Linked DNA regions of Homo sapiens. The protein of the gene in region 1 interacts with the protein of each later gene in a pairwise test. Each region holds a gene or a part of one and is shown in the gene's direction. Other genes may lie near its edges.

Region 1 (2,524 bases):
TTGGATCACTCTGCTCCTTTCAATACTGTTAGCTACTTACTCTTTGAAGCTCTATTCCCCTGGCTTCTGAGACATCGCTGTGTTCCCACTTGCCTGAGTGAACACACCAGGCGGTCATGCTGGCCTCTCCTCTCTCCCTCACCCCACAGCCAGCCTTCTACTGAATCCTGCATTTGGGTAGCATCCTCCGTAGGCATTACGCCCATTTCTTTGTCTTGACTCACTAACCCCAGTGCAGCTATGCAAAGGCCTCCTCATGCACCTTCCAGCTACCTGCCTTGTCCCTGCCCCTGAATCCATTTTCTGCACCATGGCCAGAGTGATCATTCTAAAACGTGCGTCTGATCATGTTTCTCCTCTGCTGAAGTTTCCTCAGAGGCTTCTCATCACAGCTTCCTTAACATGTCATGTAAGGCCCTCTCTTTCCTGACCCTTAGTGAGCTAATCAGCCTATTATATGAGAGTCCGTGTGGCTTCTCCAGTTCTCCAGTTTGGACTCAGCGCCCGTCTATGCTCTTGGGGCATCTGGTGCATTTCCTTCCCTCTCTCGAAATTCCATCGAACTATATTGAAATTATATGCAAATGTCTGTCTTCTAGACACACAGTCCTTAAGGTAGGAGCCATGTCTCACTTATCTTGGTACATCTAGAGCAGCAGCTAGAACAGGGCCCGCATGCAATAGGCACTCATTAAATGTTCACTGAACCAAAGGGAATGGAGATGATAAGGATGTACTGGGAATTCCCTCAGCTACTTCCTTTGACCTTGGCCCCTTGGGTGCTTCCTTCCAGAGGCTCTGGGCTCTAATCACTCTCATGGGGTTGCAGTCACTGTTAAAGGAGCTTAAGACTTTCTCTTCAAAAGGGCTTTAGGCAGAACTTGCAGGAAGTTGTTGCAGACCTACCCATCCTGAGACAGGGAGAAACTCTTGTAAGTTGAATGCTCAGCACATTTGTATTGTCTGGACAGGGTCAGTGTCCTTCTGCTTAAAGATGACCTATGCTCCCAGACTCAGGCCCCTACCAGGGAGTCCCGGTCATTGCCAAAGAGCAGAACATCTGCCTGTGCCTCAGGGCCTCACTTACCCTTGCCACAGGGACCTGGTGATACATCTCCACCTACTGGTTGCTGAGAAAGTGAGTCACAGTCCACTTACTAGGGGTATTTGGCTTTTGGAGATGACTACTGGATGACATTAACTGTCTTGGGTTGCAGACAGAGGGAACCCAGCCAAAGAATCATCCTTTTCTCTATTTCAGGGTACATCTATTGCTTTACATGCAGACAATCTTGTAATAATATATTCCCTAAAACATCAGTCTCATGACAACAATCATATAAAGTGTGTATCCTCTCTTTGGCTTTGTAGATATCTAAGTTTACTGCTTATCACGGTTAAGCTTAGAGTCATTCACTTCTGAGATTCTACTAAGATGAAAGTCATACACATTAAGCTGTGTAGTTAGTCGCTGCACTTCTCTATACTGCCTCTTTCTATCCCTCTTGTTCAAGGATGGAATCTGGTATCTCCTCTTAGTCAGTGAAATCGGGGAGTAGCTGGTCCACTCAGCTCCTGAGGCATTTCTCATGCCAGATCTGGTTAGACAGCCCATTTGGGAGCCCTGCCTGCATGATGATAAGTGTTGTCCTGCCCTGCTAGCACTCTGTTAACACCTTTCTCTCTGCCAAGGTCATGTTTCCTTTTTTATAGCCCTGCCTTCATTAGATAAGTCAGACAGAGCCCAAGAGACAACTTCAGTATTTCTTAAAGACAAGAGTTAGCACTTTGGAGATGCAAGCCGTGGAAGAGTGGGGCAAGATAATTAAGGATCCTGGACCTCAAGGCAAATAAAGTGTGTCCCCAGCAGATCAAAACTGCTGTTTTCTGCAATCAACAATTAACCCGCAATGATTTCGCTCCTGACATGGCCATCTTTGCTGTCTTCTGAACTTCCTGTAGGTGGCAGGTCCTGGATGCTGTCCCATTTTGGTTCCAAGACTATTGTGTGGCTCTCTTGACAGGGGCCAGTCAAGTGGCAGTTTTCTCCTCTGAGTTGCAGGAGGACAGGCTTAACAGGGTGGTTCATGTGGCGTATTCCCACTTCTGCACTGTCTTCAAACAAAGTTGCAGTGTCCAGTAAAACAGCAGCCCAAATAGCAGTGAGGTTAGATGTAGGTGGCCGGGCGGTGGGGGGGCGCGGGTGCATTGGGAACTCTGGAACTGCATGAATCCCACACGGCATACTGGATTTATAATAGAGTCACTCAGAGCTTCTCAAAGACCCTGTTTTCAGGGAGGAAACAGACCAGGCTTTGTGCAGCTCCAGGCTGGGGTGCTGACATCACTGGACCCCTCCTTGTGGGGGGACGCTGTCTGTCACGTGAGCTGGGGCCATCAGTTTGAGCGTGGCTGCTCCACAGGGCCCAAGATGGAGGCTTTTCTTCTCTTTCCAACACCGAAGGGCTGCATTGGTGGGCCAGGGAGGGTGGCCTGACCCACCTGCATATCCAGTGCCCTTTAG
Region 2 (3,738 bases), about 22 Mb from region 1:
ATTGGTTTTTACTTCAGTGATCTTTCTTATTTGAAGGTAATAAAAAGATCTTAAAAAGCAAGGCCCACGTCTTCTGTCATGGTCAAGTATCCTCTACACAGCACAGTGCTCCGGATCTTACTCCATGTGGGCAAGTCTTTTAAGTCTTTCTGTAAGTTTCTAAAACACAGTGATTTTAATATTTACACTTCTTTGGTAAATGCTTTAAGGTCTTTGAAGTTGAAAGGCTAATTAAATATAGCCCTGCTTGGACATTTATTTTTCTCATCTAAAAAAAATGAATACTCATCTTAGTTTTGGTTTTTATTTATTTATTTGTTTGTTTTTTAGCCACAGATTCTTACTCTGTTACCCAGGCTGGCATGCAGTGGTGTGATCATGGCTTACTGCAACCTCGAACTCCTGGCCTCAAGAGATCTCCCTCTTCAGCCTCTTGAGTAACTGGGACTACAGGCACATGCCACTGCGCCTGGTTAATTTTTTTCTTTTTGTAGAAACAAGGTCTCCCTATGTTACCCAGGCTGGTCTTGAACTCCTGGGTTCAAGTGATCCTCCCACCTTGGCCTGCCAAAGTACAGGGCTTACAGGCATGAGTCATTATGCCTGACTCATCTCAGTTTGTTTTTTTTAGAAGGGAAAAGTATACAGTGATCTGTTCTACCCTCCCAATGTGCTTAATATGAAACACATATCAAGTATGAAATAGTCTTGTAATAGTACTATGTGTGTGTGTGTGTGTGTGTGTGTGTGTGTGTGTGTGTGTGTGTGTGTATTTTTTCTTGGGACAGTCATGCTCTGTGGACCAGGCTGGAGTGCAGCGGCGCCATCTCGGCTCACTGCAACCTCTGCCTCCCAGGTTCAAGTGATTCTCCTGCCTCAGCCTCCCAAGTAACTGAGATTACAGGTGCGCACCATCACACCTGGCTAATTGTTTTTGTGTTTTTAGTAGAGATGGGGTTTTACCACGTTGGCCAGGCTGGTCTGGAACTCCTGGCCTCAAGTGATCCACCCACCTTGGCCTCCCAAAGCGCTGGGATTACAGGTGTGAGCCCCCACACCCGGCCAGTAGTACTGTATTCTGAAAACAATACAAAATAGGTTAGTTTTATCTCTGGGAACTAGTTTATTCCACCTGAAGAAATTATTGAATCTTATTAGGCATTGAAGTTTCAAAATGCTGAGATTTCAGGTTAATCTACAGATTGTTATGAGTTTAATTTCAGATATTCATGGGTTGGTAATAGATTTATTTCATTAATCATGTAAAAGAGTATACATCTTGTCCAAGTATGTTAGCAGCTAATGTTTTTAATCTTTTTTTTTTTAGATTCACAGAGAGTTAATAAAAATTTCTGAGGGAACAGGATTCAGAATACACATGATCCACAAAGCAGCAGTGGCAGCCAAGAAATTTGGACCTAAATCATCTAAAAAGTTTGGTAAGGAATTCATACATGGGATGTAGATAGAGCATGTAAGGAATCTGGAAATTATAAATATCCTAATTGCTATGTAAGTGTTGTTAAAGTATAGTCATGTATGTATAAAATTTGAATTTTAGAAGAACTAAAGCGATCCCCTTCTCACTCTACTGAGAAGTTATACATAAATATATACCAGTAGTTCTCAAATAGAGACAATCTTGCCCCCCACCTTTCACCACAGGGACATTTGGCAATAATTTGGAGACATTTGTAGTTGTCACAACTGGGGAGAAGTGCTACTAGCCTGTAGTTACTAGCCTATAGCCAAGGATGTTGTTAAACATTCTGCGGTGCACAGGACAGTCCCCTGCAACGAACACTTAGTGGCCCAAAGTGGTAACAGTGCTGAGGCTAAAAAATTCTGATTTATACCATTGATTTTTAATCTGCCATGGAAATACTCTGGCAGACAGGAATGGCATGCATAGCTGGGTGCAGTGGCTCACACCTGTAATCTTCTCCATACCTATAGCTATGGAGAAGCTGAGGTGGGAGGATTGCTTGAGGCCAGGAGTTTGGGACCAGCCTTGGCAACATAGCGAGACTCCATCTCTAAAAGAAATTTTTTAAATAAAAAAAAATTAGCCAGGCATGGTGGTGCATGCCTGTAGTCCTAGCTACTTGGGAGTCTGAGGTGGGAAGATCACTTGAGCGCAGGAGTTCAAGGCTGCCATGAGCTATGATTGCACCACTGTACTCCAGCCTGAGCAACAGAGTGAGACTCCATCTTAAAAAAAACAAAAAGAACGGCTTACATCCTCACCCTTATATCAGCCAGAGAATCTGCTTTCATTTTTTTTTTTTTTCTTTTTGTTTTTTGACATTGTCCACTTGGAGATAAGCTTTCATCTGTTTTGTTTTGTTTAAATCTTGGGCCTCTGCATAAAATTCCATGTAAAAAAAATGATTTTCCTGGGGGAAAAAAAGATTTGAAAATTAAATTGTTCTTTCCTCTTAGAAATTGAGAAGAGGCTGGGTATTGTGGCTCATGCCTGTAATCCGGCATTTTGGGAGGCTGAGGCAGGGAGATTGCTTGAGCCCAGGAATTCGAGACCAGCCTGGACAGCATAGGGAGACCCTGTTTCTACAAAAATAAAAGTAAAAAAAAAATTTACCATCTCTACTAAAAATACAAAAAATTAGCTGGGCGTGGTGGCGGGCGCCTGTAGTCCCAGCTAGTGGTAGTCCCAGCTACTCGGGAGTGAGAATGGCGTGAACCCGGGAGGCAGAGCTTGCAGTGAGCCGAGGTTGTGCCACTGCACTCCAGCCTGGGCGACAGAGCTAGACTGTCTCAAAAAAATAATAGTAATAAATAAAAATTAGCCAGGTGCAGTGGCATGTGCCTGTAGTCCCAGCTACTCAGAATGCTGATGCCAGAAGATCTCTTGAGCCCAAGAGTTTGAAGTTGCATGCAGTGAGCTATGATCACACATTGTACTCCATCCAGGCTGGGTGACAGAGCAAGACCCTGTCTCAAAAAGAAAGAGAAAGCTGCTCAGATATATTAAAAGGAAAGTAGGGATATAATAGTTTTGTGTTGTTGGCTATGACTACTTCCCACTTCAGGTTATTAACTGAAGTTGAGGAGGCTTAATTCCTAGTTCAAGAGGGATAAATCCTGTTTTTGCAATTTCTACCATTTGTTTTTCCTATAGATATTCTTGTGACTACTCCAAATCGACTAATCTATTTATTAAAGCAAGATCCCCCCGGAATCGACCTAGCAAGGTATAGATGATATTTTCATGTCTTTCGTGTGTATTTTTAATTTAGTTAATTATATTTTGTCCTCTATTGCTTGTATTTTTTGTCTTTGGAGCTTGCTGTTTGCCACCTTCAGTCAGTGTTGGCACTGAGAATAATGGTTTTTTAAAAAAATTCATAGAAAAGAAATGGAACCTCGTATCTTTGAGGCTATTGGAATAGGTACATTAAGCTATGTTTATCTTCCTTTTACCTTTTTCCTGCTGTGTTAGTCCGTTTTCATGCTGCTCTAAACAGCTACCTGAGACTGGGTAATTTATAAAGAACGGAAGGTTTAATTGACCCACAAGTCAGGGCATGACTGGGGAGGCCTTAGGAAACTTACGGTCATGGCAGAAGGGGAAGCAAGACATATCTTACATGGTGGCAGATGGGGAAGAGAGAGAGAGAGTGCCCCCATGAGCCGGTCACCTCCCACCAGGTCCCTCCCTCAACACGTGAGGATTACAATTCGAGATGAGATTTGGGTGGGGATACACAGCCAAACCAT

The links.
Region 2: the proteins of PMP22 (region 1) and DDX52 interact in a two-hybrid assay, tested with the Homo sapiens proteins (one large-scale study listed by BioGRID and IntAct).

What each region holds. Positions count from the first base shown.
Region 1 is NC_000017.11:15,231,803-15,234,326, reverse strand, and holds part of PMP22 (peripheral myelin protein 22), read left to right. Parts: intron 1-1,713; coding exon of another isoform or gene 1,714-1,784; exon of another isoform or gene 1,785-2,524. UniProt on the Homo sapiens protein: Might be involved in growth regulation, and in myelinization in the peripheral nervous system.
Region 2 is NC_000017.11:37,626,262-37,629,999, reverse strand, and holds part of DDX52 (probable ATP-dependent RNA helicase DDX52), read left to right. Parts: exon of another isoform or gene 1-124; coding exon of another isoform or gene 125-151; intron 152-1,327; coding exon 1,328-1,439; intron 1,440-3,139; coding exon 3,140-3,212; intron 3,213-3,738.